3 separate regions of the Homo sapiens genome follow, and all the other regions are linked to region 2. The links come from fine-mapping of genetic effects on gene expression. A gene starts in region 2. Each other region holds a variant in brackets. All regions are shown on one strand. Distances are from middle to middle.

Region 1 (10,947 bases), 160 kb after region 2:
GTTTTATTTGTAGGGAAAGATTTCCCCTGGAAATACTGGTGTTATCTTTTTAAAAACTTCTCAACCAGTTCTTCTCTCAAAATCTGCCCCCTTTCTGCCATTGCTAATTGAACTGTGTAAAAAGTTGAATAGCTCAGCTAGAAAGTACTAGAAAGTACTTCATGGCCAATTCTTAGTTCTTAGGTGTATTTCATGCTTCCACTTTACTTCCCTTTTTTGTTAAATGTTCAAAGACTTGATTGATGTAATATGCAAATCATAGTTTATCTAAGCCAATTTAGTTTCAAAAACGAAGCTATTTTTTGGACACTAAAGAGAGGCAATGTGTTTAGAGAGAATTGGGAACAGGTTTAGTATTGGACTGTTAACTCAGGGTTTGTCAGTCAAATCTGTGACCTTGTACAAGTCACTTAGTCTCTCTGTGCCTCAATTTCCTTGTATGGGGAGTAATAAAATTGAACTAAATAGGCAATGTGTGTTTCTATGATTAAATTATTTTGCTTCTAGTTATCATGAGCTTATATCCGTAGTCTGGCAATGTTAAAATAAGCAGTTTCTGAGATGAAGAATTCTTTCCGTTCCTGCAAGTATGTATGGCTGCAGAATGTTCCAGTAACCTTCTATGACGGTCATTCATGACTATGGAAATCTCCTCAGCGGCTTCTCTACATTTGGCTCCTCTACTTGTTATCTTAATGTTTGATTCACTACTTGGTAATATTTTAAATGTCACTTTAGTCATCTGAAACTCTGCTGTCAATTGTTTAATGTCCCACTACTTATGTTAACTACTTTTCTGACAGTTTGAAATAAAAATGTAATGCCTGCCTATAGCCAGCACCTTAATCAAGGAATAAAACAGCACCAGTACCATGGAAGACATTCTTGTTGCCACTCTTTGTGCAATTTTTTCCCCCCATTCTAAGAGTAATTCTGGACCAGGTGTAGTGGTTCATGCCTGTAATCCCAGCACTTTGAGAGGCCAATGCAGGAGGATCGCCTGAGCCCAGGAATTTGAGACCAGCCTGTGCAACGTGGTAAGACATCATCTCTGCAAAAAAATTGGTAAAAAAAAAAGTGTAATTCTGTCTCTGAACACAGATAGATTAGTTTTATCTACTCTTGAACTTCCTATAATAGAATCATATCATATGTAATCATTTATGTTTGACTTTTGTTTTGCTCGACATTGTAAGATTTAGCTATGTGTATATCATTGTTGTTTGTTCAGTCTCATCACTGCATAGTGTTTCATTTTGAGAATATACCACAGCTAATCTGTTTTATTATTGATGAACATTTGGGCATTCCCAATAGTGTAGATATGAACATTGTTGTACATGTCTCTTTGGTAACATGTACTCATTTCTGCTGGTTATATATGTAGATGTGTAGTTTGCTCAGTCCTAGGATATGCATATGATTATCTTTTGTAGATAATGCCAATTTTCCAAAGTGGTTGTACCAATCAGCAATATATGAGAATTCCAGTAACTCTTTATCTTTGCCAAGATCTGTTTTCTGTCGTTCATTTTTAGCCATTCTGGTGGATGTGTATTGCAATATGCTTTTAATTTGTAATATCCTAATGACCAGTGAGGTTGAAAACATTTTCAAATGTTTATGAGCCACTTAGTGTTAGTTTTGTGAAGCACCTTTTCGTGTGTTTTTTTACTAATTTTTTTCTACTGAGTTATTATCTGCTTTCTTGACTTACAGTTCTGCAAATATTTTAGATACAGATCTTTTTATACTTTTGAGATACAAATATAATCTCCCTTTCCTCATATTTTTCCATTTCACTCATTTAATTGTATCTGTAGAGGAAAAAAAACTCTTAACTTTAATATAGTGCAATTTATATATATTTTCCTATTTAGAAATTTGTGTCCTATTTAAGAAGTTATTGTCTACTGTAGCATCATGAAGATGTTTACACATATTTTCTTTTAGAACCCTTTAGATATGCATTCCATCTAGAATTAATTTTGTGTATGGCATGAGGTTGAGGGCTCTATGGATATCTAAATAATCCAGCTCCAGTTGCTGAGTTGGCATTATCTTTTTCCCACAGCACTGTAGTTTTGCCCTATCATAACTTAGGTTATCATATGTGTGCCTCCAATACAAATTTTAATTTTAGTATTTTATAGAATTTTTTTCAGATTTAGTATAGGATTGTAGAGAGTCAAATTATAAATGGTAGGCATTTAACTGATTCAAAGATGATGATGACAACAATGATGATGACAATGGTGAATACCATATATTGATTACCTACTTATTGCTAGACTAGTACTGTCCTAGACACTTTGCCTAGTGATGTATTTCAATACTCAAAATGACAGTTTTAGGAAACTGAGGCCCAAAGAAGTCACACAGCTGGTAAAGTGGGAAAACATGGATTCTAGCAAAGTTCTAACTAATTTCAAGACTCTATTTGTAATTGCTGTTTTAAGCTCATCTAAGAATGCTACCAAAGTTCCGGTCTCTACAGTCTGAACAAAAGCAATTCTTAAAAAGAAAAAGGCAGGAAAGTATAACTAGTGTATCAAACTAGACTTTTCATATTTCACATAACTTAGTATACTCAAGTTGACTCTCAAATGAGACTAATTTAGAAATAAATCAGTGAAGCCATATAAATTTCAATGATCTCCCATTTTCCTTAAGAGTGGTGGGATATGAAAACTGCTATTAACTGAAGTTTTGATTCATTCTTTAAATTGCCTGAGACCAAGACCAGTTGTGCACTTTGAGTGCTTCACAAAGGTGCTCAACTGAGGGGGCTTTTGGAAATGGAAACTTAGTCTATGTTCCAGTAGCCAATCCTTGTATCCGTGGAGCCGAGTCTATCCAGAGAAAGAACCTTGCGGCCTTTTTCCAAGTCACACAAAGCCCTGGCAGGCAAGGTCAGGTCTAACTCAGCTCAGATCCTCAAGGTGTACATAGAACAATAGCAGTTTCCCGAGGAAAGCTCTGGACAATCCACTCATTTCTGAGCAGGCAGCATGGGCACCACTACTACTTGGCTCTCCTGTGACTGCTCAGCTTTAGCAAAGGTGCCAGTATAAAGATTATAATCAGTGTTTTAGTACCGTCATACATTTGATACTAAATTTGAGGACATAGATTAAAAAATCTCATGAAAGCCATGGACATCTTAATACTATGGTACCATCTTTGCGTATTCATACATACATACAAAATTCTGCATGTATTTCAGGAGGCCCAAGGACTAGAGGATCCATTCCATGGACTCTATGAATCTCAGGTTCAGAAGCCTTGCTTTAAAATTCTACATTAAATGTAATGAAGGAAAAAAAAATGTAGTTTGAATGAAAGAAATGGCACTAGGAAATGGTGATAGAGTTTGAACATGCTTTGTATAAGGTAAACTCTTCTCTAAAGGGAATTACTCGATATTAAATAACTAAACATTATAATTAGCTCAAGAAATATACTTGAAGAGGACAAAGTATAGTACAAAGATGTATAAAGTTATATAAGTTGTTCAGAAAACTAATCCAAGGGATAGTTGGGAGTCTATTGTAGGGAAAAAACAAAATGCAAAGAATCTGATATTTAGAAATTATATACCTATGTATATACCCATCTCATTAAGAATAGCTGGTTTTATACCATTTTAATAAATGGGAGAGAAAGGACTAGCAGTGGCCACACCTTTACCTGGTTTATATTCTCAGATTCTTGTATTTGAAAACACTGGTGTCCAAATTGAAACAATAAGGTGAGAAATAATCCACTAAAGAAATGGTTAGATTTCTAAAATTTAAGTTTTCCATTATTTTGTTGTCCTTTATAGAAAAAGAATGAACAAGTCTTGGTTTATGAGTAATTTGCTAAGAATTTTTAAATATTTCAAGGCAACTATATGTAGCCCTACAAATTATAGAACTGGTTTAAGTCACTTCTCTGTCGTTGTGAAAGGTCTGATGTGGTCAGGGCTGCAAGAGTGTTTTCTGAGTTAAGAAAGGGATGACTTTGTTTATAAGCAACCTCTATCTAGATCACTTCTGATTGGGCAATTTTAAACATTCTGAATTGTAGCTAATGGGAAGGTAGGTTTTTCTTGTGCTGAATATTAAGATACAAAGTTGGGATAGAAAGAGTTCTTCTCTTGACCCATTAATTGAACCACTTTTTGAAAAACTTTTGTCATGATGAGTTTATTGCTAAGAGTTAATTTTACCTGCAGAAAAGAAGCATTCTGAGCTATGGGGATAACTGATATCTATAGTCATCATTTTTTAAGGTACTTGATACATAATAGGATCTATTGCTTCATTCATAATAGAAAAGCCTACTTAGACATTTGTAGCTACATTTATATTACAAGGGGTAAAATATAACTTTGGGTAAACTGTTACCTATTTTTCTCTTTCAGTATCAATTGAGAAATATAATTATACAACGCTATTTAATTTGCGTAGTTAACTTAAAGGAAAACTTCACTAGTATGAGTTACCTGGAAGATATGTCAATCTGAATTAGTGAAAGTTCTGGAACATAAATTATTTTTAGTGCATATTGTCCCCTGATCTATGTTTTACAGTGTGAGCAATTAGGTCAGTTTTAATAAATGTGGGAATTATTTTTAATTACACTACAACATTAGCCTGAAATTCTGGCTTCTGGTTACATTGTATTTCTGCTATTGCTTATAAATGGCTACTTCCAAAGAGAGGAAATATGTTATGTTTGAAGGTAAATGTTTACCTGAATATGTTTTTTTCACATTATTCTATAATGTGAGGCTGAACTTCAAATGACCTTGAATTATCAATTATTCTGATTTACTGGATCCTTTATTACATTTGAAGGGTCATCAGTAAGGTGATAAATTGTAATGCTGTGTTCCTAGTTACAGAGTGTTCAGAAGGATGGGACTAGTTCTTTGTGAAATAGGTAGACCCTAGATGGATTTCCCCAGACATACCATCACCGCCCTGCCCCCCACACACACCTGCACACACACTGACATACACCTCAGTATCTAATACTTGAGCATTTCTGAGTGTTTGCCAATTTAAACCTTTTCCAGTCTCTTCCCTTATTCAAAAATGCCCTTTAATTTTAAAAAGTTATGCCTAGTTGTTACTGGGACTCTTAGCAGATATTATTTAAAAAGGGAAGTTATAAATCCTTATCTTTAAAAAATATATAATTTAGGGGAAAAAAGAGTGCAGGTGTATTGTAAACAAAGGATATGTTCAGATGGCAACATATGAACAACAATAACTTGTAGTAAACCCTGACTAGAAAAGGGTGGCACAGGTTTGCTGATTGTACATGTAGCGATTGAAAAAGTTTTTAAAAATTGTATCTTTAAACCTGTGTGTACTGTTAGAAATTATATTCCTAAAGTAATTGCCTCCTTAGAGGAAGATGAATGATACCCTGATCAGGTAGAGAAAGCATATTGGCAGTGGAGTCTGTTGACCCTCTTAGTGGAAGAAATGTCTAAAATTAGGGCCAGAGTTACATTTATGGGATCTGAGCCAACACCATTCATTCCTAAGCTTACATTATTATGCTTAATATGCCCTAATTTATGTTAATGCCCCCAGATCTCTCTCCTGACTTTCATAGGTACTCATCCAATATCCTGTTGTACATGAAGATCCAGCACTCACCACGGCCTCCATTCCTAAGCTGAACTCTTGAGCTCCCTGCTAAAACCTGTTTTTTCTTCCCTATCTTCTATTTCAGTATATGGCCAGCACTATTCACCCAGTTTTACAAGCCATAAACTGAGGCATCATTCTTGTAACTCCTGTCCCCCACCATTTTCTCTCATACTCATGTTGCATCAGGCAGTAATCCTTGGTGATCCTACCTCC[C/T]GAGTACTTCTCAGACCTACACAGACCTCTGTTCCCACTACCATGCCAGCTTAGGCCAGCATCATCTCTTGCCTGAATCAACCTCTTTTTTTCCCTTCTCCAGTCTTGCCCTCTCCCACAATTCATTCTTCATATGGTCACCTGCCGTTGGGACTTTACTGTGGATGTGTTTATGAGGTTGGTTCCCATCGTGACAGTAGGCAAAAATTAGCTAGGGATAGAACAGAGTACACAAGTAAGGATTGATTTTGAATAGAAAAACTAGGGAGAAAGGGGGAAGCCTTGGAGAAAACTGCCTTGCCACACAGAACCATATCCATAGTGATTAAGACTTCTGACTCATAGAACACCTGGGTTCAAATCATGGCTCTTTTGTTAGTTGTGTGGCTGTGAGATCTTTGCTTACTATTTAGAACCTTGGCTTCTTCATCTGTTAGAGGTAGATGAAAATAGTAACTCATTCATATAGAGCTGCTTACCGGACTAAGTAAATAATCATGTGAAGTACCTGGCATATAGTAAGTGCCCAATAAATGTTAACTGTTTGTATTATTTTTATTGGAGTGCCGCCTAGGAATAAGAGAGTTAAGACAACATCATGAGACCCCTGAGTAGCGAAATAGGAAGGATGCAGGCATATAATGAAGCTGCTATTGCCAGCATAGCTAGGAATGGGAATGGAAGTGGGAAGAGGGGAAGGAAGACACTGACTATGTGAACAAGTGGCTGCTGAAGACAGCAGTTGTCATGCACTTACAGATTTTTCTAAGATAGGCTCCAATTTAAACCAAAACAGAGAAAATTACCTTAATTATTTAGAAGTTTCTGGTTCTGCCTCAAAAATCTTATTTACCAAGGTAACTGCTTAAGTTCTCCACTTTTTTATTTGTGTTAACACAAGGGTTTTTTTGCATGGAGAACTATTACCTTACAGTATAGCAGTCTGCAGGCATTTAGTAAGTGTCTGGTTCCTTTATTTGCAGATGGGCATGGTTTTCTACTAAAGTTGGTGGTGACTAGTGGTAAGTTTATAAGGAATTTAAGTTAAAAGAAAAGTATACATACCAATACCTTATGAGGAATGTGTTTTGTGAATGAAAATTCAGGTAAAGTATTGGGAATATGGTGTGACTTCTGCATGCCCTGATTCAGTGGTCCTGCAAACCAGGCTCTCATGACAAATAGATGTTCCCACCTGGGGACCGGCCATAGTCAGTAGAAGCCCTGACCCTTCTACTTTCCCAAGAGCTTTGGTGGTCTCAGAGCCCACTGTCCTCACCCTCTTGTCTGTGTCAAGAGCTCACCTGAAAGTCAATGGACATGGAAGCTCTGCCATTGCATCATGTAGACTTACTATCAACCTTCATGTGCTGTTCTGTATATTATTTCTGGCTTACTTAAGTGGTGTTACTGCTGAGCTGAATTTATTCTACATATTTAGGCTTTTACAAGCTTTGGTGTCCTTGAGGGTAAAGGTCCTAAGTACCATTTATAGCGATGATCCAGTTGTAGAAAATAGCGTCCTTGAAGATATTGCCAAAGAGCAATTGGCAAGATTTATTTGCACTGTGAAATTTTAATTGCCTCAGCTTTAGACTTTCAACTTTTATTTTGAGGTCAGTGCTACTCAGTCATAGAGGAGCAGCACTTTGGCTGTGTTGAGAGTGATTGGGTAATAATGAAGGGTGTTGGAACAGCTTCACCTAGAGATTAGCTAAAGCATATGTGTGCAGAAGCACAGGATGACTTTGTCCGGAGATTGTGTCTTCCAGAGAGGAGGAATATGAATGATAAGATTTAGGCTTCTTTTAAGAGAGGCCATGCCTTTTGAGTTCAGTGAGGGTAGAGCTGCAGCAAGAAAAGCACTGGGTAGGTAGCTCATGTGTGGCAGAAAGGAGGAAGGGATATACCATTAAAGGAAAAGGGGGAAAAATACAACTTCCAGAATCTTAAATATGCTGTTGACAAAAAGAGCTCACGTTTACCCCTAAAAGCTTATGGCGTCTGGCTTCAATAGGGAACATGAAAGGAGAAAGGCAGAACTACAGAATGCTGTAAAAAAAATCTGTATGGGTATCAGCTACATTGCAGACTCACTATAATGTAGACTATTGCATCTCCCTGTGTGCTGAGTTCATTTCTGTAAATAACAAAAGGACCTTGTTCTAACACCTTCACTTATAACAAGGTCCTTGAGTATAAAGTAGAGTTGAGCATTGCAGTATGGCTTTAGTACCATTCCACACATTTATTGAAGGGTTGTCATGATTTTTAAAAGTCTTGTTCTTATTTTCTTTTCATGCTGCTTCTATTTCAAAGGATGATTTCATTTCAGTTCATGTGGGTAAAAGTCCGTAAGTTACTACATTTGTGATTAATTCTGAGAATCCTCTTCAACTACACTGTAGTGAGTTGTAGAAATTTTATATATAGTGAACTTGTCAAAAAGAAACTACAAATTTCTTCTGTGGCTTTTTATTTTTAAAAACTACTGAGCATTTTAGTGAAAACATCTTACATTCAGAGAACATGTGAAATAAAAGTGTATTAGCCAGAGGCCAAAATGGAACATTAGTGGCTTGTGTGCCTGTACTGACGTAGTGTTGGATGCCAGTTGGCCAGACATGGGAACATTTAGATTTTGTTTCTGAGAGGAAGCAGTGCATAGCCGTAAGCCACATTAAGTTCATTAGGTGCAATTGCTACATCACACAGTTAATATAGTGAGAGAAATAAACTCTTCAGTGACTCAATTCTAGTGGCACCAATTTTAACCAATTTGTCAGACAATTGAGTATGTTCTGCATTTAGTATGGATTTAAAAAAATATGGTGCCCATTTTCATGTTTGGTTTGTTTGGCTTTCCAGACATAGTTCAGTTTATGAAGAAGCAGCTATTCACTAAGCAAGTCAGCATTGATAATGGGGGTTGCGTTTGTTGCTGATGTGTAAGGAAGGTTTTACTAGCCAACATAGGAATTTTGGAATATATCTAGGAGAGGGTTCATGATGTGGGAAAGCATCTACTATATCTTGGAGAAGTGTGTATATATATTTGCTTCCAGTAATCCATAGGTTTGTATAAAAGATGTAAAGGTTAAAAATCACCAAACATACATCACACAAATTGGATTATAGTCATGTTTGTTAAATGCTGAGATTCAAATTTGTAGTTATTTATGCAAATGATCACATTAAACATATAACCAAGTGACGCTTTGCTCTGTCACTTAATATATTTCTTCCAAGGAGCATCAAACTTTATCTTCAAAAAGCCTGAAGTATGACCTATTCACTCCATTTTAAAGATGAGAAAACTGAGTAAGATAAATGTGGTAAGAAATGGAGCAAGAACTACTATGATGGTGGCTGCTCCTATGATCTGCATTTTCTGCTTTTCTGCCTTTTTTTCTGTAAGTTTACATTTATGACTTCAAAGCATCATTTTCAGTTCTCAACCTACCTCCAGGTTTCAAACTGTATATCCAGCTACTTATTTGTTATCTCTACCTAGTTTTAACTAAATCTTTAAATTAGATTACATGGGCTACTAAAGCACAGCAAAAACTACTCCTTGTTACAATGAGTCATGCAGTATTAGATAAATATGCAGATGTGTTACAGGACCAGGCAATAGCTAATGTTAATCAGTCCCAAATTAGTGCTAGTTGCAACAATTTGGTGTTATGTTCATAATTCAGGCATACATATTGAACATATATCGTTATTTAGGAAAAAAAAAGATCAAAACTATGCTCCTGAAACAACAAAAACAAAAATCTTAGTTAAAAAATGTCTGGTAATGGCATGGATAAGATTGATGGGTTGACATGGCTGATGTCTTTCAGAATTATTCCTACAGGAGTTATTTAAAAGACTGAAGCTTAGATGAGGAGAAATGTCTGTTGCTTCTTCCCTGGAAGCTTGGATATCAAAGATATATTGACTCTTTTGACTGTGATTTTGGAATAGTTACATGAAACAAACTCAACCAAACATGAATACCAGCTTTCTGTAAGTGCAGTGCTTCTTAGAAATAGGAAGGCCTAGACTGAATGACCTCCTTATGTCCTTGCTGTGATCAAAGCTCCAAATTCTTAGGAATGTGTTTCTTTATACTAATAAACCACAAATTCATCCAATATAGACTTTTCCTTCCTTTTTGCAAAATCTTGGAAATTATTTTGTAAGATAAACTAATTTTAATTTCTAAAGCTGATGGACATTATTTTGAGAAGAAAAGAAGTATGTTCTTACCTCTAGTTTATGGATTAACTCTCAGTATTGTCCCAAATATAGTAGCAGCAATTCAAAAGATGTCTTTGTTTCCACTTAACCTGCTATTAAATGCCACCTTCTCCATTGTTTTAATTCAGTTTGAGTTTATCCCAGGTTTGTGAGTCAAGCTGATCCTAAACTGGACTAGAGTAAAATTTTCAAAATTGCTATCAAAATTTTTTGTGAATCAGAATACATTGATAAATTAAAGGAGAAGCAAATCATTATCCCAACAAAGTGGTTGACTAATCAGTTGAACTTTTGAAAAGTTGTGAATGAGACCACCTTAGTCTTCCACTGGAGCCCTGCTCTTAAATGAGGAGAAAAGCTGTTATCTTTAAGTACAAGCTAATGAGAAACAATAATCTATAATTTTAAAAGATCACCTTATTTCCAGAACATAATTTGAAGAGGCAGATATTAATGATCTACTTACCGCAGAACTGATGCACGGGAAGTCTAAACAACTTGTCTTGGTTCATACTATAAATTATGATAAAACCAAGAACACCACATGATTTCCTAGTGTTTCAATTCTGAATGCTGCTAGACAGATGGATTTCTCCCTTAACACTATGAATATAATGAATATCTTACAGTGACACATCTGAAAACAGGTATGTGTGTGTGCATGTGTTGGTTTGTTTGTACTTGCATTTACTTTTAGGATTGGGTTGGGGGACCATGGACTATTGCTTCCCTTTGAGTGTCACTGGCTGTTGTATTCTCACTTTTTCTGTGTCTTCCACTCAGAATAAAGGCTGCTGGGTAGGTGCTCCCTATTTATCAGGATGCAGCTGTGCAT
Region 2 (8,924 bases):
TGCAGCGAAGTCTGAGACGCCGCACAAGGTGCTTTTGCAAAGTTTAGGATCCTCATCCCTTTCCAGTGGAATTTTCTCAATGCCTCAGCCGGATGCGGACCCGCGCATACGGACAGCTAGGGGGGCAATTGATCACTGGAGGCTGATTGATCATTTGTTTCCAAACAGAATAGGAACGATTTTCATGTGTAGCTGTAAACTTGCAATTCTACATAATAGTGTTATCATGTCACCTGTTACTACAGGGAAATACAGCATGAAATCCGAGTCTCTTCGGCGCTGTTAAGTATTCATCTTAAACGCATTATAATGCAAATGCATAAGATTCAGGGATACAAGTTAGGAAGCAAATTTTACAAAGTCAGGCTAGGTGGTGAGAAGGAAGTTTTAAAGTATTATTTGTAGTTCTCTTAAACGTATTTATAGATTTTTCTTAAAAATTACGTATTTGACATTGAAATAGTAATTTGATTCAATAAGGAAAGAAAGGGAAAGCAATTTACCACTACCAACAGCTTTAGAACCCTGAAGTTTTTCCTGAAGGACAACTTTTGATGTTCCAAGATTTTACTGAAAATGTAATCCACGAAAATGCGCTGAGAAAAACTAACAATGTACTATGAAAGGTAAACTCCCCATTTGTGGGGCTTGGTTTTATAAAAGATGGAAGAAAAAAGAACACATGAAAGTGTGAAATTAAATATTTGTGTTTCCCAGATTGCACATGATTAAACATCTGAGAGATTTGCCAATGGCATTTAACTTAAAATATACACAATGCATAATTCAAATAACAGTTCCTATTTTTACCTTGTATTTCAAACTTCATTGATTTGAGAACCTTTGATTTGAACCAACAGTATTTAAACTGAAAAGGTTAAGATAATCTATCACTGCCATATTTTGTGCCTTCCAAGCAATGGCCCAGTGACCAGAGCAGATTTTGCATAACACACTGAGTGTTTTCCAAGTTGATGTCCAGTATTCCAAATATTCTGTAGAAGACTTCATTATATGCTCTGTGTACTGTCTGAAGTTTTTTTTTTTTTTTAAAGAGTTTGGAAAATAACTCAAAAAGGGGCTATTCCTTGTCAAAGGGATTTTTGATTTAAATTATTTTAGTCTTGTTTTACTTCAGTGATTACAGGAATCTTTAATACAAAAGATCTGGGACTCTTTCAAACATGAAAGACTAGAAAAGAATTAGATTTTTCCTTTTCATGGTTCAGGTATGTTTTTTTGGTCACTTATACAACATTTAAATGACAATAGTATCTGGCGGTCACTTTAACTAGGAAGTGCAGGCAATGGTCACAATAGTATGGTCTGTGAAGTAGGGAGTCAAGGGTCAGAAATGTCAGATGGCCTTTGGAAGATTTCAGGGACCTCCGGGAACTTGAGCTAACTTATACCATATAAATTGGGCATAAAAGGGTGGGGGATTAGGAATTTTCTGCCATCAGGTTTGCTCTGAGTGTTGTTATCCTTTACCATAAAGATCACCTCAGAGAGAATTTTCCCTCAAGGCAGGAGCACCAGGGGCAGTCCCCTACAGTCTGCCACCTCAGCACTGAGAGCTGCACTGGTGCTTTCCACTTTCAACTTTGAATTTGGGCACCTTATGAAGTCTCTGAATCCCACTGCAGTTCTAAAGACTAAGGCTTTTTTTTTTTTTTTTCTAGCATCTCTAAACTTTAGCCTTTGGGGTGTATTATTCCCTCCTTCGATTTTTATGTTATATTGGCAGAAGAGAAGATGATAGCTGTGAAAAATGTAGCCTTCTTTGATTTTGTTACTAAGACATGATGACACCTGTTACTGTCTTTTAGTCAAAATAGGGGGAGGGGGGCAGAGAGTGAGCCGTGTAGGTCAAGGTCATTGGCAGGTGTTGGAGGTAGGGTCTGAGTCAGGAGTCCCCTGTCCTCTGGCACCTCAACAGGATTGTGGGGTTCTGAAGGACAGACTTAGTTTCCGCTTGGATTTGTTTCCATCTGGATTTGTTTGTTAAGTGAATGGTGACATATCATTTTACCAAAAAATTATTTTTAAGTACTTTTGAGGAGTCCGCCGCGGGAGTGACAGGAGTGGGGGGTTTTTCAAGCAAAGAGTGGCCTCTTGGGAGACTACAAGCTTCTCTCATTTGTCATCTTCGGGCAGAAACCCCCTAGACTGGGTGTCCTGGAGCCAAAACTTTGAACTGGCAACTTTTTCCCTTCTCTGCCAGCCCATGTATATCTTGTCCATAACACTCTCCACTCCAGTTCATTTCTCATTCTCTCCTACCTGTAGAGTGTACTCCAAAGAGAACTTAAACACCATCATGCAGATTAAACACCTCTACCACGAAAAACATTTATGTGTTCCTTTGGAAGTTTCCAACTCCCAGCCCTACTTTACTGGAGTCGTAGAGACCGAATGGAGGACCCCTTTTCAGGTCTTTATTTTTTTCTTAAGCTTAAAGTCAAATGCAGAACCTCACACAGGACTGATGTTTTCCATCAGGCGCTTTCATTCATTCAAAGTGGAAATGCTTTGGGAGTCCTTTCTACTTGCCTGGTTGACACATGACTGACCCAAGTCTCTGCGTAAAAAGCTGTCCACACGCTTCTGATTGGTTTAGTGGAGAAAACGCTCTGACCAGGGTCTACCCAGGTAACAGGATTCTAGCCCGGGCCCTGCACTGAGTAGCCAGCCTTTCTCTAGGCCTTGCTGAACTGTCAAACCGGGGTGCGGCTGGGCTAGATCCCAGAGGGTGGCAGTCCGGTCCCAAGTCCCGGGACCCGAGTCGGGAGGGGCTTCTGTATGTGAGTTTAAACGCGCGGGGATTCACCTGTGAACCCTGGGGTCTGCACTCCTGTACGTCCGTGACTGATGCAGATGCTCCGGCTTTGGGAACGCTGCTGAGAGCGCCAGAGCCACAAGGTGCTTGTGCTGCTGCTGCACCGCCCACGGGGCTCTTGGGCCCATCTGCTTGGGCCAGCGCACCCCCCATCCGTATTGATTTCCGCTGCCCCCAAGGAGCTCCCGGGACTGTGTCCTGCCCCAGCTCGCTCCTGTGGCCTCCCAGTTCCTTTTTCTGTTTCTTTCTTTCCTCCTGGCTGCAATACTCCAGAGAAGGGAAGTGTTTGAAACTGCAACTGAGTGGCGTTGTTGCGCCGGCAGCCGAGCCTCCCAGTCCCCCAACGAGAAAGAGAGAGAGAGAGAGAGAGAGAGAAATTGAGAGAGAGAGAGAGAGAGAGAGAGAGAGAGAGAGAGAAGGGGGGGGAGGTGTGTGTCTGCGTACGAGAGAGCGCTCTGGAGCAAAGCAGCTGGAAAATGCCCAGAAATACTTTCACAGCGGTCAAGCTGGAACCCCCCGCGTGTCCTCCCCCTTCCCGCTCCTCCCGGCCTAGACCCCGCGCCCCCCGCAGGGAGGGTGTGCGCCCCACCTGCCACCGGGCTGCTCCGGGTGGTAGAAAGGGGTGACGGGGGACGGGGGCGGGGGCGGGTGGCGGCGCGGGGGTGAGAACCCGGAGGCGGCGGGGCCCTGGGCCGGGCTGCCCGCGGGACCGCGCGGCCGCCTCCCCCCGCCGCCGCCGCCGCCTCCCCCTCCTCCTCCTCCGCCGCCGCCGCCGGTCGCCTGTCTCCGCGCCGGGCATGCCTCGGGAGCCGGGGCGGCCCGGGCCGCGGGCGCTCTGCGGCGCATGGACGGCGGCGGCGCCGGGCGAGCAGCGGGAGGAGAAGGCGCAGGCGGCGGCGGAAGCGGCGACCCACGGCTGGGAGCACCGGCGGCGCGAGGGGACGGCCGGCCGCCCGCGAGGCTCCGGCCCCACTACTTTTCCGTAGCCTCCCCACCTCAGCAGCACGGCCGCCGCCGCCGCCGCCGCCGCCGCCACGGCCACGGCCACGGCCCCGGCCCCGGCCACCGCCCGCCGGGCAGCCCAGAGCGCCGCGCACGGCCGCACTCTCCCGCCACCCCACGCACACGCACACCCCCGCCCGCCCACGCCCCCCACCCGGGAGGGGGGAGAGAGGCAAAAAGTAAGAGAGGAAAAAAAATAGCAGGAAGATGGCGCCCACCAAGCCCAGCTTTCAGCAGGATCCTTCCAGGCGAGAACGGTAACACTTTTCTGTTTATTGAACCTGCCGCCGGGCCGCTGCTCCCGCCGCCGCCGCCTCCGCCGCCGAGGGCCCCTCTCCGCAGCCCGCCCGCCTCCTGGGCCGCGAGCCCGCGGGGACCTCGTCTGGGCGCAGCGCTCGCCCGGGGCCCCGCGCATTGTCCCCGCGGCGGCTGCGGCAGCGAGAGGCTCTGGCGGCGGCCGGGCTCTCTGAGCAGTCGCACCTCCTCGGCTCGGCGAATAGAGTGACTCACTGACAAAAAAAAAAAAAAAAAGAAGAAAGAAACAGAAAAGAGAAAAAGAAAAAGAAACAAACAGATGCGAAGGCGCTGCCGTGTGACGGGAGCAGCAGCGAGGGTGGGGGGCCGGGGATCCCCGGGGCCGCCGCAGGTCCCCTAGCAGCTGCTCTCGAGGAAGGGAATGAGGCTGGGGAGGGGGAGGGAAGGCGGCGAGCAGGGGGAGGAGGCGAGGAGCAGGAGGAGGAGGCCGGGGGCGGGGAGCGCGGAGCTCGCGCCAGGCCCGGAATGTGTCGCGGAGGGGCCGGCTCCGTCTCCGCGCGAGCAGCTAGGCCGGGCCGAGCCCAGAGGAGCGCGGCCGCCGCCTCCCTGCCTCCCGGGCTGCGCCCTCCGCTCGGCAACTTGTGGGTCTCCCGCTCTGCCCTCCGCTCTCATCTTCCCCTCCTCTCCATACCCCTCCCAAAGGAAAAAGAAAAATAAAGAAGAAAACCCTCAAATCCAAATAAGCAAACAAACAGCGAGATCCAAAATGTGTCAGCAGTTGGAGCATCTATGCCCCGTTAGTTACTGTTTGGGGATCTGTGTTTTAAAAAGTTCCTGGTGAGAATTGCATATCCAAGCAAGGGGCTCAGTCGAGCATGTCTATTTGAAGTTAGTTAAACTAGTACAGCCACAGGGAAAGGGAGTTTGTGTTCAAAATACCCGTAACTGTTCTACGTGAGTAGCATTGATAGATTTTCAGAGTAACTCAGCACCCCCTCCCCATCACCACCAACGTGGTTTTCCCTCCTGCTGTCCACCCAGCCTACTTTCTTTGGAATCCTATTTACTATTAATTGGCAACGTTAATGACATTAATTGCATATAGCATATTGGTTTGAGCAAAGTGGATATCTCTTTCTGTCTCCGAAGAGGAAAGGCGCAGTAGGAAGTATGAAACGTCACCCACTGATTCATGAGGAAAACAAATACAGTAAGATATATGCACCCCCACCCGCAGCAGGCGCGTTGATTTTCCTCACAGGCTTAAGTGAACTTGAAAAGAAGACAAAGGATGTGCTTAGTTGCAAGATTTAATTATTATAACATAGTTTTATTTTTGATGCAACATAATATTTAACCTATAGCTTACATCAGAAGACGATAAGGGGATATTCAGACATCCATTCATTTAAAAGGCTTCTATTGTACTGTTGCTTATTTCTTTCATACGATAGGGAAGGCACAATTGTCAGGATTAAGGAAATACTTTTGTTAAGTAGATACATAATTGACTAATTCTGAACTCTAGATGATTCTGTAAACATCATATATCAGAGAGTAAATCATACATAATCCAGTTTTTAAAGATGTTAAATGTGTATAGCATTAACTATTGCTCCCAAACTGTAGAAAATCTGACAACTCATACAGCTAAAATGAGTATTTACTTCTTAAGAAGTATCAGTGTTTCATGAAGAATTCACACTTTACTCTTGTAGTAGAAAAAATAATTTCTCAGAGCATTGTGCAAGGATTTTAAAAATTATTTTTTATCTAACATGAAGATGAATACTTTTTGAAATCTGAGGTTTATAATTGGTTTTCTTCCCCCTCCCCTCCCCTCCCCTTCCCTCCTCCCTCCCTCCCTTCCCCTCCTCCCTCCTTTCCCCTCCTCCCTCCTTCCCCTCCCCTCCTCCCTCCCTCCCTCCCTCCCTCCCTCCCTCCCTCCTTCCTTCCTTCCTTCCTTCCTTCCTTCCTTCCTTCCTTCTTCCCAGTTCTGTTGTTAATAAATATGTTTACTGGGATGGCCCCAGTAATCTCTCTAGCAAAGGCCTATTCGTGTGCCATTTTAGGAATTTCTCTGAGATAAGAATCTCGGAGATAGAATTAATTTCTAGGGGAAACTTCATAGCCTGTGCATGAGTGCGTTCTTTATCACCTGTCTCCATTTGGCATTCGAAGAAGGTAAATCAAAGTGTGCGATTTGTTATTCTGCTCCACTTGAGAGCTGAACTAAATAACACTTGGTCTGAAATTCTGATTGAAGTTGTAGGAGGATATACTGTATTTAATTTAATGCCCTTTAATAGCATCTTCTTGTTCAGCTTGGATGCTGTCATTTTAAAGGTTGGATCTGAGAAGGTTTAACCTGTATGGAGAAGGAGGAGTAATAACAGCGGGGTGGGGGCAGGAGCACTGTGGAAGATAGGAAGGAAGGAGTTATAAACTAAACCTTTCAAAAGGCAACAACCGCAAACTTGGTCCCTTATCCAAACAGTTGTTTTATGCCCCAAGGGTTCACTTTGTTGTCAGGGTTTTAAATGCTCTTAACACTTTAAGTGTAAACATTACACATGTAAGTTGATTTGGCTTTGTAATGAGAAATGGGAAATCAGATGATTTGTTTAGGAGGGGGCTGTTTTTCATACTTGCTTCAAGTAAGTGAGTAATTCCACCTTTATTTGCACATTGTGCCTAGAACTTGTTGGTTAACAAGTATTTCCTTGTAGCAGTTGAACACAAATATGTTTATAAAAGATGACTTTCTGTGGATATGTTTTAAATGGTATCCTCCTATTTATTTAAAAAAATGTTTTCAAAATCATTGATTTCACAGAGGCATTTATGGACAGTTTATTCTTTACTGCTTTTCAAATATATTAGTAATCTGAAACTTACAGAGAAAAATATATCTTTTGAATTGTCTCATTTATTTATGAAATGTCTAACCTGTGTATAGTAATACAGTACCAAAGTCATTTCCTTATAGTAATGTTTATAATGTAAATTTCAGAAAAATAAGCTCGTTCTTGATAATGTCTTTGGTTACTATTTAGTGCTCCTTACATTTCTCTGAATTACATATACAGAAAGTGTCTCTTTAGAGCCTGAAAGAACAAGTTGAAAACCTTGTGTACATAAACTTGTTTGATTTTCTTTAAACGCCAATAGACTGCAAATTATATAGCACTACCACAAAGTTTTTCTACTATGTGGATGTATAACCAAAAAAATTAGACAGAGAGAAGTGTCAAGCATGTGATATGCCCATGCTGATTTGCAAAGCGTATCCCAGTAGCACAAGGCTTTTGGTTTAAAAAGTAAAGGTGGTGGAGACTGGTTTTTGGAGGTATTTCTATCTACAGTATAAGCTTAAATAGGGGTGATAAATGATTATATGCATTGTCTAACACTTGCTTATATATATAAATAGCTCCACAAGATTGCTTAAATGATAATCGAAAATATGAAATAGGATGGCCTTCATATCACAAGGCCAAGGGTCTACAAATGGAAAAACTGAAATAATGAAATATTTCCAAGGCAACAGACTGTCAACAAGAACTGTAATGCATGGGCATATCATGATCCACCAGAGAGGATATTAGATCGTATAGCTCCAGAGCCAGGAGTTATAATGACCTTTATTATGTAAGACCCTCCCTCATTACAACATCTTTTCAGATTTCCAATTTCTGATTTATGAATTGAAAGACATATAACTACTCCACATGTGCAATATGCCAATCACTAGATTTGATTCCTTACAGTGAGCAAATGAGCAAACTTGAATTCAACATTATTCGATACTTTTTTTTTTTTAAAGTTACATGAGGTGTTTTCACCTAGTAGTGTTATTAGTAAGGTTTTGGTTTCTGTGTCTTTATATAGTCTTAAAAATATGGCTAAAAGTGATGTGTAATTAATATCTCAGCAATCAATTGGTAAGACTTATACTGTACTTCAAATATAATCCAGAAATTGGAGCAGTTTGATAATTTTAGTCATATGAATTTTGATCTTCCCCTGTAATTCTTCTACCCAATGGCTGGCCCTATACTATAATATAGCTATTTTATGAGAAGGCCAGAATACTTATGAACCACCTTACTCCTCTTCCCTGCCCCAGATCCTGGTCTGGGATTCAGTGCTATGTTACAATTGTGTCTGTTTGAAGTAGGACCTGCTGCTAGGATCCCCTGCTCTGTGGTGAGGTTTTCTATGGCTTCTGTAAAGCAACACTTTTGGGGAAGCATTATTTATTTTCTTAAGCAGTAGGTCTTCATATTTGGGGATTTCTTTTTTGTTTCTTTATTTCTTTTCTTTTTCTTTTTTTTTTTTTTTTTAGACAGAGTCTTGCTCTGTTGCCCAGGCATGCTGGAGTGCAGTGGCACAATCTCAGCTCACTGCAACCTCTGCCTTCAAATGATTCTCCTGTCTCAGCCTTCCAAATAGCTGGGACTACAGGCACATGCCAATACGCCCAGCTAATTTTTGTATTTTTAGTAGAGATAGGGGTTTCACCATGTTGGCCAGGCTGGTCTCAAACTCCTGACCTCAGGTGATCTGCCTGCCTCAGCCTCCCAAAGTGCTGGGATTACAGGCGTGAGCCACTGTGCCTGGCCTTTATTTGGGGATATTTATGGAGAATATATTACAAAAGTTTCAAAATCCTTTTAATGCTTTCCTCTACTAACTTCCTTAAGTGCTTTACTATTAATAATGACCCTAATGTAACCTTAATCTGTTTTTGTTTTTCTACAATTCTAGTAAACCTATGTCTTATGCAAAATGTCACTAAATTTAAAGAAAATTAACACTCATGAAA
Region 3 (10,947 bases), 510 kb after region 2:
TCAATAATCCATGTATATTCTAATTTCAAAGCAATAGCCTAAAGTAGAAAAAAAAGATAAAAGAATCTTAGAGTGCAGATAAAATTTCAGATTATCCAGTTAACATTACTTTTCAATAGCAGAATCCCTTGGAAATCTTATTGATCAAAATCATCCAACTGCTGTTTGAATATTTCCAGTGATAGCAAACTTGTTCCCTTTGAAGGCAGCCCATCCTATTATTGTACTATTCGCATTTTAAAAACTGTCTTCTTTATATTTTTCACTTTTTGATTCCGGTTTTGACTTCTGAATCTCTTTTATTTCTAAGAGTTCTTGTATTAGTCTGTTCTGATGCTGCTAATAAAGACATATCCGAGACTGGATAATTTATAAAGGAAATACATTTAATGGATTCACAGTTTCACGTGGCTGGGGAGGCCTCACAATCATGGCTGAGGGCAAAGGAGAAGCAAAGGCACGTCTTACATGGTGGCAGGTAAGAGCACCAGTGCAGGGAAACTCCCCTTTATAAAACCATCACATCTCATGAGACTTACTCAAGAACAACATGGGAAAGACCCTCCCCCATGATTCAATTACCTCCCCCCAGGTTCCTCCCATGACATGTGGGAATCACGAAAGCTACAATTTAAGATGAGATTTTGGTGGGGACACAGCCAAACCATATCAGCTCTCTTCTACAATTTCTCCCTTAATTATTTCATGATTCCTCGTATGACATAGTTTGCAGATTTCTCGATGTACTACTTCATACTCAGTGTACCAATATTCTTATGTGGTCTCAGTAGGGTGAAGACTGGGGGGAGGACTAAATCCTTGATCTAAAAATTATACTTGTATTAACATGGCTTAAAAATGATACTAGCTATTTAGCAGCCACTTCACTGTTTATTTGTCTAACTTTTGGTGAACTAAAGTTCCAGATCTCAGTCATAAGAATGACAGTCAACTGAACATGGTGGTGCCTGCCTGCAGCCTCACCTACTCAGGAGACTGAGGTGGGAGGAGGGAGGATTGCGTGAGCCCAGGGGTTGGAATCCAGCCTGGGCAACAGAGCAAGTTCCTGTCTTAAAAAAAAAAAAAAATTAAAAAACTACAGTTAAGCCAGGTGATACGGTTTGGCTGTGTCCCAAATCTCATATTGAATTGTAGTTCCCATAATCCGCATGTGTTGTGGGAGGTAATTGAATCATGAGGGTGGTTCCCCCATGCTATCCTCATGATAGTAAGTTCTCATGAGATCTGATGCTTTTGTAAGGGGCTTCGCCCTTCACTTGGCTCTGTCTTCTCCTTGCTGCCGCCATGTGAAGAAGGACTTGTTTGCTTCCCATTGTGCCATGATTGTAAGTTTCCTGAGGCCTCCCCAGCCATACTGAACTGTGAGTCAATTAAACATCTTTATTTTATAAATTATGCAGTCTCAGGTATGTCCTTATTAGCAGCATGAGAACAAACGAATACACCAGGTTTTCCCCATCTTGTATTTAAGGAAATGATTTGTTAGCGTCAGTTAAGACTTGACATTTAGTTCTGCTGCCTCTAAGTTTAATGTTTTCTGAACCTTGTTTACTTAAAGAGGTAAGGTTGAATCTTGATAATTTGATAATTTACCCTTACCTGAGTTCTCTCTCTCAAATACATTTTATCTGTATGAAATGTCTTTATGAAAACATTGTTTAAAATGTGGAATGATTCAGGATAATTACAGAGCAAATCAGTAGAAGAGAGAGCCCTTTACAGATTGACCAGCTTCCCTCAGTTAACACTGAATTCCTTTACTCAAGTTATTATTGCATTGTTCATAGTTATTACTCCATTTAACTATATTTTGTCTTCCACATTTTCCTCAATTTCAAGTCTATCGAATATGCTGCTAAAAACATCATTATACTTAAAGGGAAAATTTGACTATATATCTAGAAACTCTGTTAAAAAAGGAAAAAAAAAAAAGTTAATTCACCAAGATTTGTAATGCATGCTTGCTGCCTCCCAGTGATCACTGGTTTCTTTTACAGAGTTTTCTTAATTTCATATTTAATAAAATGTTCCAAAGATTGCTAACTTTATGTATTGAATGAAATTCTATTAGTTTAGCTGGTAACTACTGTCCCCAGCAGCTGAGAGGCTCAAACAAAAGAGCACCAGTAGGGAATCCAGTTGCATGGATCTTGTCCTGGAAGATACATGACATGCCTGGAGGTGCTCACCCCCTCCACACACGCTAAGGAGCCCAGGCAGAGAGGGGACCAGTGGGCCAAAGGCTTTATTGACTCCAGGGCATTATCCAAACAGATTTCCTGCAGGGGAGCTTTAATTGCAGGGTTTAAAGCAGCAGCCACTAGTTCCAGGAGGTCACGCTGTGACTGAGAAGGAGTCACTTTAAGTTTGCAGGCAAATGTCTGAATGGTCCATTTACAGGAAGTGGCAGGAAAGTGGGGAGCCCAGCCTGCTAGGTGGAAGAGATGCCTCTGAGTTTTATCTCTGGTCACCAGCTGGAGCCATTCGGGTAGGGTATAATGTTGGAAACTGTGTCAAGGGTGACTGAGACCTGCTTCTGGTATGAGAAAGTTAACCTTTTATGTGAAAATAGATGCTGAGGCAACATAAAATTAAAAGCACCCACTGTGGTACTGGATCTTTTGATTATGGCTTGCCTACATCATGGAACTTGAACTATTTAATTTGGTACATTTGTATTTTTTTCCATTTTAGTAGAAGAAATTTACACTTTGTCTTTTGGAATCTTCAAGTCACCTTGAGAGACATTCGATTTAGAATCCCTAGTCATGGAATTATGTCTGTCTGTTCACTATGCATTAAGAATCTGTATGCCTAAAACTCAGGGCGTGGGACTGAGGATACCCAGCCTTTTCTTTCTTTATGATGATGACCACAGTTGCAGTGTTACAACTTTGTTTAAGGTTCTTGTCTATACCTCCTCCATGTTCCTTCCTCTTTTTGTCCAGAAGAGAACAAGCAGGGGGTGAAAACTTGCCAAACAAGTCATGTGAGCAGTGACGGGATGACATGGGGTTGTTAAGCCTGGGGAAAAGAAAGTTTGTGCAAACAAAGTAACTGTCTTCGAACATTTGAGAGACATTGAGTTGAGGTAGAAGAGTTAGTTTGAGTCTGCAGATTCAGAGAAATTTGAATTAAGGCCAGTAACTAAGCAAATTTTAATGTCATTATAAAGACATCTTGGTCTAAACTGGTGAAACATGGAATGACCCATTTCCTGACCAGCGTCACTGGAGGGTCCAAGGACTACTGGGGCTATCCCATGGCAGAGTCGGGTTAGATGGAGTCCATGTGGATCGGCCTGGGTAGTGTTCACGATTCCTCCAACCCTGAGATCACATGATTTTTATGCTTTATATATTTATATCTTGTTTAAAAGAGATCTAAGGAAATGCTATGAAAATCAGTGCACATCTATTCACATTCCCCTTTTTCCTTCTAAAAGTTGAAACTGCCTGTAAGGCAGGAATTTATCAGATGCTCTGCTTTTGCCCGAATGTTACTCCCAACAGATAGTCTAATGCTTGAGGTTCCCTCATCATCATCTTATCATTCTGCTACCCAATTTAATTATCTGCTTTCGGAAATCATCCTTCTTATCCACCATGCTATGATCTTCTCTCACAGCAACTTAAGTATTTTTTATTTAAACCAAAATATTCTCCATTGTGTTCCCACCTTCTAGGATTATTTTCTCCTCAGGTTGTTTACATTGTTTGTGTTTGTTCACAACAGACTGTACTATTCTTCGGCACTTGGTTAATTGTATTTATTTTGATCAATACACACCCTCTGTCATTGTTCTCCATGCATGAGTCACATCGCTCTGAGTTGAGGTGTATACTGCTTATTCCTTTGTGTTAAAAAAATTTCTATTATTCTCCTTTATGCTAATATTTAAGTTCATTTTGTTTTATTGTCAACATTTTACATATTACTATATGTACTTCAAAAACTAAGTATTCGTAGCAAAACCTCTGTTATCATTCCGTCTTTGTGAAACTCACTGTCTTCTACTACAGCTATTCTCCTGTAGAATTTTACCTGTTTCACCCCAACTCTGACATGTGCCTCCAATTTCTCTTTGAAATATTTTTATATCTCACATACACATTTCCTGATCTTTAGAATAATTTCTCTATCTTGAGCCAGATGAGTGAAATATAACTCTGTTATACAATTGAAAAAACATTTCCAATAACAAAAAATATGTTGACACTATTCTCTTGACCAGCTTTCTCATACCAAGCCATAACCTCAAGGATGAAGATATTTCCCCAAGGCCTTCAGTTTCAGACCCAGAGCTTTAAATCTTCAAGAGACAATTTGGAACATTTTCTATAACTACCATTTATTCTCTCTTCAAGTCAACCTACTTGAATAGGAATTTGCAGGTTCAGTGGCATATCATTTTAAGCAAGAATGAACTTCTTGGTTACCCATGTTGAATAACCAACCCATTGTTTAGGAGACAGTCACCAGCTGACCCACCAACCTTCTTTCTCTGGAGGGTACACAGGGACCTCCCTGGGCTGAGGCCTGTGCCTCTTCTTTGGGTAAGGAGTGTTGCACTTTTTTTTTTTTTTTTCAGAAGATCCAAATTTAACTGCTATGGTCAGTGCCATTTACAGTTTTTGTGGCTTTAGTGAAATCTAGTTTTCTCTTATCTTTTTCCTCAATGATAGCTTCAATTCTCTAATCTTCTGATGTTCCGTTTGAGTCAACATCAACCCCACTGAAATCTTTTCTTCCAGTTTTCATCTTGGATTATTTTTTCCATCTTCTCTAGGGACACTTCATGCTTTCTTTTTTTTTTTTTTTTTTTTGAGACGGAGTCTCGCTCTGTCGCCCAGGCCGGACTGCGGACTGCAGTGGCGCAATCTCGGCTCACTGCAAGCTCCGCTTCCCGGGTTCACGCCATTCTCCTGCCTCAGCCTCCCGAGTAGCTGGGACTACAGGCGCCCGCCACCGCGCCCGGCTAATTTTTTGTATTTTTAGTAGAGACGGGGTTTCACCTTGTTAGCCAGGATGGTCTCGATCTCCTGACCTCATGATCCACCCGCCTCGGCCTCCCAAAGTGCTGGGATTACAGGCGTGAGCCACCGCGCCCGGCCACTTCATGCTTTCTAATAAGCAAGAGGATACATAGATATTCCTGAAATTCTTTCATGTTCTTTACTAGATAGTTGTATCTCATTCCTCCCTCGGAAGAGATGGAGAAAAACTTGTTAGCAGTCTCAGCAGAAAATTCTTGAGATGGCTCAGGAGTTTCCATTGAATCATCCTTGGTCTTTTTCTTTTCTTTCTTTCTTTTTAACTGCGTAATTCTATTCTATTGCCTAATGTCTTATAGGATTTATTTTATAAAATCTTTATGACTTTCTGTCAGTTGTATTCATGTTTTCTATAGCATTAGTTACAGAGAACAAAATCTATTAAGTATATTCATGTATGATCTGACCAATGCTGCAAAATGAGATAATATTTTCTATGCTACCTAGTGTTTTCTAATATGTTGATTTGAGGTGAAATACTATGTTTGAATCTTACAGCAGGCTCATTAACTAATACAACTACGTTTGTATGTAGCTACCTATTGCATAATGCATCTTACAAATATTTACCAAATAGCAATATGCACGAGATGCTATTCTGAATGGTGGGATATACTTATGAGCTAAGCAGGTGTCTTCATCTAAAGAAGCT[C/G]ACAATCTGTGGAGAGAGAGATAGACCTGTAATAGCAATCCATTGTGCTGAGTGCTATCACATGGGCATATGCAAAAGGCCGTTGGGGCCTAAAGGACTATCTTAGCTTGGTGGTAGAAGTTCAGAGAGTCTTTGCAGAGGATAGTACTTGTAAGCTAAGTTTTTATGGGTGGGTAAGATGTCACATGAATGAGAGAATTCTAAATGCAAGAAATGTGCAAAGGCACAGAAACACAGAAGAGCATGTTGTACAACCTGGCTATAGTTTAGATTTTGTGTGTGTGCTATGAGAGTGTGCGTGTGCTGTGAGTGTGTGTGTGGGCGCACGCACGCATTTGTAGGAGGTAGGGAGAAGAGTGCCGGCATAACATGAAATGATATTGGACCTCAAATGGTATGCTAAGATGTTTGACAATTTTATTCTAAGCAGTGAGTTTTTAAATTTAGACATGCAACTATAACATGAAAGAGGATTTCGATATTAGGAGTAGTGTGACCACTATGGAAAGAAGAGAAAATAGTGAGGGCCTAAAACTAAGGTAGCAGCAGGGGTGAGAACAGAATTGGCTGGGCAAAGTGGCACATACCTGTAATGCCAGTGCTGTGGGAGGCTGAGGCAGGAAGATTATTTGAATCCAGGGGTTTCAAGCCAGCCTGGGCAACACAGTGAGATCTTGTCTCTACAAAATATAAAGAAAATTAGCCAGGCATAGTGGCACACACCTATAGTATGAGCTACTCAGAAGGCTAAGGCAGGAGGATTGCTTAAGCCCAGGAGTTCAAGGTTAGAGTGAGCTATGATTGTGCCACTGTACTCTAGCCTGGATGAAAAAGTGAGACCCTATCTCTTAAAAAAAACAAAAACAGAAGGATTAAGTGACATTTAGAAAGTAGGAGAGATTGGATTTGGAGACTGAGTCTCTACATGTGTGGCAGAGGGAACAGTTAGCCTCCAGCACGTCTGGCCAGAATATTTGGGTAGATAGTGATAATGATAAGTATGAATTATGTAGGAGGAGGGATGGAGAAGATTATTAATTCGATTGGACAGATAAAAAATTTGAAGTGCTTTTAAGACATATGTTAAAGATGGGACTGATTAGGGTTGAAACTTAGGAGGCTTAGAGATACAGATTTGAACATCATTTGAATTTGTGTAGGTTGTAGTAAAAGTCATGCACTTGGATGAGATCCTCTAAGAAGAACATATAAAGTTTTAAAAGAAGAAAATTCAGGGCCCAGAATCCTAGGGAACTCCATAATTTAAGGGGATAACAGATTTCATCTCTCTAAAAGACAGTCCAAAGATAGAATAGGAATCTTGAAGAGAGTAGTGAAGATTGGAAATGGCAACTGCAAAAGAAGCTCGTGAGCTCCATGCGGAAGGGTCGCTGAGGGCAAAGTGGTGCTGAGGGCCCATCTAGGTGTTGATAGCATACATTTTGCATCTTACTTTATTCCATGAACTGTGCTTGATACATAGCGCTGTGGTTGTCCTTACCAATTTAATGATGTTTCTGATGATCATTGTTCCTATTTGGCAAGATTACTTTAAATTCTGAGATTATCTTGCAAGGAAGAACTTCATTTGCACCTAAATTTTGGTGGTCTTTATCATAATGAGGAACATCTCTCTGCCATCATCTGGATCCACGATGAAAATATCAAAGTGCCCCTGAGACAAGGATGAAACGTTGCCGAAAACTGCTGTCCCTCTTCCAAATGTCCGTACAGATGTGAATGAAAAATAGCAGCATACAAGCATCTGAACTGGCTTGGTCAGCCCAGCCTGAGTGAGCAGGCCAAAATCTGTCTGCACCAGATGCCAGCCAGGTCCAAGAGAAACCCCAAACGATCTGATAATAAAGAGGAAACCCTGATATGTCTGTGGCCAAAAATAATTAGCAATGGAAATGGAAGGGCACTTAAAGGAGGAGGAAATAAAGGAGGAGAAGGGATTTTTCAAAAAGAATCTCTGGGCAGACACTCAAGGAGAGTTAAACACCCCAACCGCATAGGCCTCAAGGGAGCAGGTAGAGGTGACATTGTCTGCTGTATGTCCACCGAAAAGAGACTGCAGGAGTTCTGGACAGAGTGCACATTCACCCGAGTGATAAGGCAGAGGCTTAGGATGACTGAGTATGTTGAGTCCTACATGTCTTCCCCAACTCCATCCTCATATTTTAGGAGTTATCTGGGTAGATGGAATAACCTCTATCTTAGTACAAAAGTAAGTGGACTACATCCCAGGGGCCAAATCCAGCCCTCTGCCTGTTTTTATAAGTAAATTTTTTTGGCATACAGCCACACCAATTAATTTATGTGTTGTCATGGCTGCTTTCACACTACCACAGCTGAACTGAGTAGTTGCAACGGAGGATGTATGCCCTGCAAAGCCTAAAATATTTACATTCTAGCCCTTTACAGAAAGCGTTTTTTTGACCCCTTAGTATGAAGACACTTTAGCTTGAAAAACAGCTGTGCCTAAATTCATCTTATATGATTGAACCACTTTATAGCATAAATACACAGACACCCACACACACATATACATGCACACACATGCACACACACACACACACACAGAGAAGAAACTGAGAATTTAAATGGCTAAAAAATGCAATCTGCATTCTGACTCTGAATTATATTTTTTAAATGTTGCATAGACTTTGTTTGGATTACCCTCTTTTATTCCCCCCCAGGCTCTGTCTTAATCTTCCTAAGTGAAATCTGTCCTTTGCTTCATGTTGTCTTGTAACCATATTTCAATAGCACTTAATCAGTGATAAAACTGCTTTGATTTATTCCCAGCTGTGGATATTATTGTTGAAATCTGCGTAAGTGTTCCGACGTGTTATGATTGGAGCAATAGCATTTAAGAGTCCAGAGGCAAGTCAGAAAATTAACAACTGAGTTTTCTGATGCCTAAATTAACTGCACAGACAGCGCTGAGTACAATGAGAAAGTTCTGTAGAAACTTACTCGGCAGTATGTAAAGTGTTGAAATGGCTCACCCATTAAAAGTATTACATGGTGAGGACAAGTTCTCATTGGATATACTTCTTACAGGCAGTGCCACAATTTCATGTAAAGGACAGCTGGCTGCTCTTCTGGGACACTTTTCTTTATGCAACATATACATTGTTGTTGCTAAAGCATCTAACGTGATGTTTCTCGGTTCTACAGCAAAACTGAGCCGCAGTAGGTGCCGTGTGGTAGGTTCTGCTGATGCATCTGCAGTCATCGGAAAAGAAAAAAGCCATATGATTATAAAAGCAATCTGTATTCATTGCAGAAGCGTAGACTACAGAAACACAAAGAAAAGCAAAGTGACTCATAATCCATAATCGTAGCACCTACAAATAACAGCTCTTTGGTGTCTAGTCTCCCAAACTATTTTTTTAATTCCTGTGTTATTCATGAAATGAGATAGATCCTGAAAAAAACATCTGAGTCTAGATGATATGTGGAATAATATGTTCTCAATTTTTCAGTTAAATTTCTGGCACTTTATTTCTTCATGGAATCTTTCCTTAAATACTGTTGTTATTTCGCTGCCAGATTGCTTGTAGTTTGAGTTGTACTGTATGTTAGAGTTGGCCATGATATTTTATTGTTTGCTGTTTTTCTAAATCTGAATCTGTGTGAATTGGAGAGAGAAGTTTTCAATACATATTTTAATTGCTGTTGGTTTTACTCGACTCTCTTCATCTATTGTTTACAAATATCCCCAAATACAACTAGATGTTATTGGTAATTATTGATTGTCATGGTTGCCAGGCATTACTGGACCTAGAGTTCTTTTTTACTACATAAAAACTCAAAATATTATTTTTTCATGAGACAAATATGCTTTAATGTCTATAGGAGCTCTGTAACTGTCATAAGTCTTTTTACAATTTGAAATAATGGTATTAGATCGTTTCCTAACAAACGCTGAAAATGGCTACAACCTTAAGTTGTGTAGTCTTACTCTATTATTGTGGATCAAATTGTTTATCGTTCCAGCTAGACTTGGAGATCCTTGAGATCCAAGATATTTTATCTCTGTGTTTTCAGTACCTTTTCTAGTCTCTGGCACATAAAAAATACATGCCTAATAAATATTTGTAGAATACAAAATTACTTGCCCCAAATCATCAATTGATACAGCTGTGCCTCCTTATTTGCTCTGCCTGCCCCCATATTTCCCCTTATGTTAAACAATACGGTACAGTGGTTAAAAAGTAGGTTCTTGAGTTCAAAGTCTCTAGGCACTTTTAGTAAAGTTTAAATCTGAGCCTTCTCCACTTCTGAGTCATGTGACCTTGGCAAAGCCTGTGGACCTCAGTCCTGCTATTTGTAGAATGTTGACAGTAATAGAACTGACAGCACAGAATTATTGCAGGTGAAGTGAAATAATACCCTGAAGTGCGTTGCCCATTCTTGGTGTCCAGAAACTGTTACTATTTATTTTCCTCTCTCTCGATCATTTTCATACATTGAAATAAGCTATGATAGACACTTTATAAGTTTTAAAATGCTTTTAACATGTATAACAAATATTAAAAATGTATGCTATGACAATACGGTTCATTGTTATGGTTTCTTTAGGTTCATTTCACTTTCATGGATTTACAAGCACTGTAAATCTTGGGCCTGTTATCTTTGCACATTTTCTTGTGCCCATTTTCATCTAAGGAGAAATTAAGGAGTAGAGAAAGGATGTAAGTCTCCTTAAGGCTACTCAGAATTATAAACAGTAAGAAATAGAAGTTCTATAGCAAGATTCTTAAACTGTTGAATAAAATCTTCCTTTCCTATAAAAAGACTGTTCTGAGTATCCATACAAGTATCATTTATAACCACAGGCAGGGTATGTATGGGCTTTGATTTCAGGTGCTGTGTTTTGCTGAAGTCTGCTAACAGCCTCTACATCAAATTCATAATGATATTAAAATCTATGGTTCTTAGAAAAAGAATGGTTGAGAATGTGTTACAAAAGCAATTTGTCTCATCATGTTAATGTTGATGCCCTCTTATCCCAGAACCTGGCTGAAGCTGGAGTCAAAATCTATATTGGTTTAATTTTAAGTGGCCTTGTGAACAAGTGCATTCAGGCAATGAAGGAACTGAAAGCTACTTAGACCACCCAGGCTCCTGGTTGTGGACTCTCGGATGGGGCTGGGCATTGTTAAAGGAGGTTGAACCTACATGCTTAAAGTTTCTGTGAAGGAGGAG

The links. PIP is the estimated chance that this variant, and not a neighbour inherited with it, causes the effect.
Region 1: its variant is the best candidate, but not a certain one, in a credible set for the expression of NPAS3 in breast (GTEx, PIP 0.55).
Region 3: its variant is the best candidate, but not a certain one, in a credible set for the expression of NPAS3 in nasal epithelium (TOPMed, PIP 0.65).

The regions. Positions count from the first base shown.
Region 1 is chr14:33,096,160-33,107,106 of GRCh38, forward strand. The region is part of intron 2 of NPAS3 (neuronal PAS domain protein 3); the gene reads left to right. Among named protein-coding and RNA genes, the nearest start is that of NPAS3, 160 kb to the left of the region's middle. The variant C/T (reference allele first, on the strand shown) is at 5,865.
Region 2 is chr14:32,935,269-32,944,192 of GRCh38, forward strand. It overlaps NPAS3 (neuronal PAS domain protein 3), which reads left to right and starts at 3,611. Exons shown (of 12, transcript NM_001164749.2): 1 at 3,611-4,098. The coding sequence starts at 4,049.
Region 3 is chr14:33,441,340-33,452,286 of GRCh38, forward strand. The region is part of intron 4 of NPAS3 (neuronal PAS domain protein 3); the gene reads left to right. Among named protein-coding and RNA genes, the nearest start is that of SNORA89, 260 kb to the right of the region's middle. The variant C/G (reference allele first, on the strand shown) is at 5,728.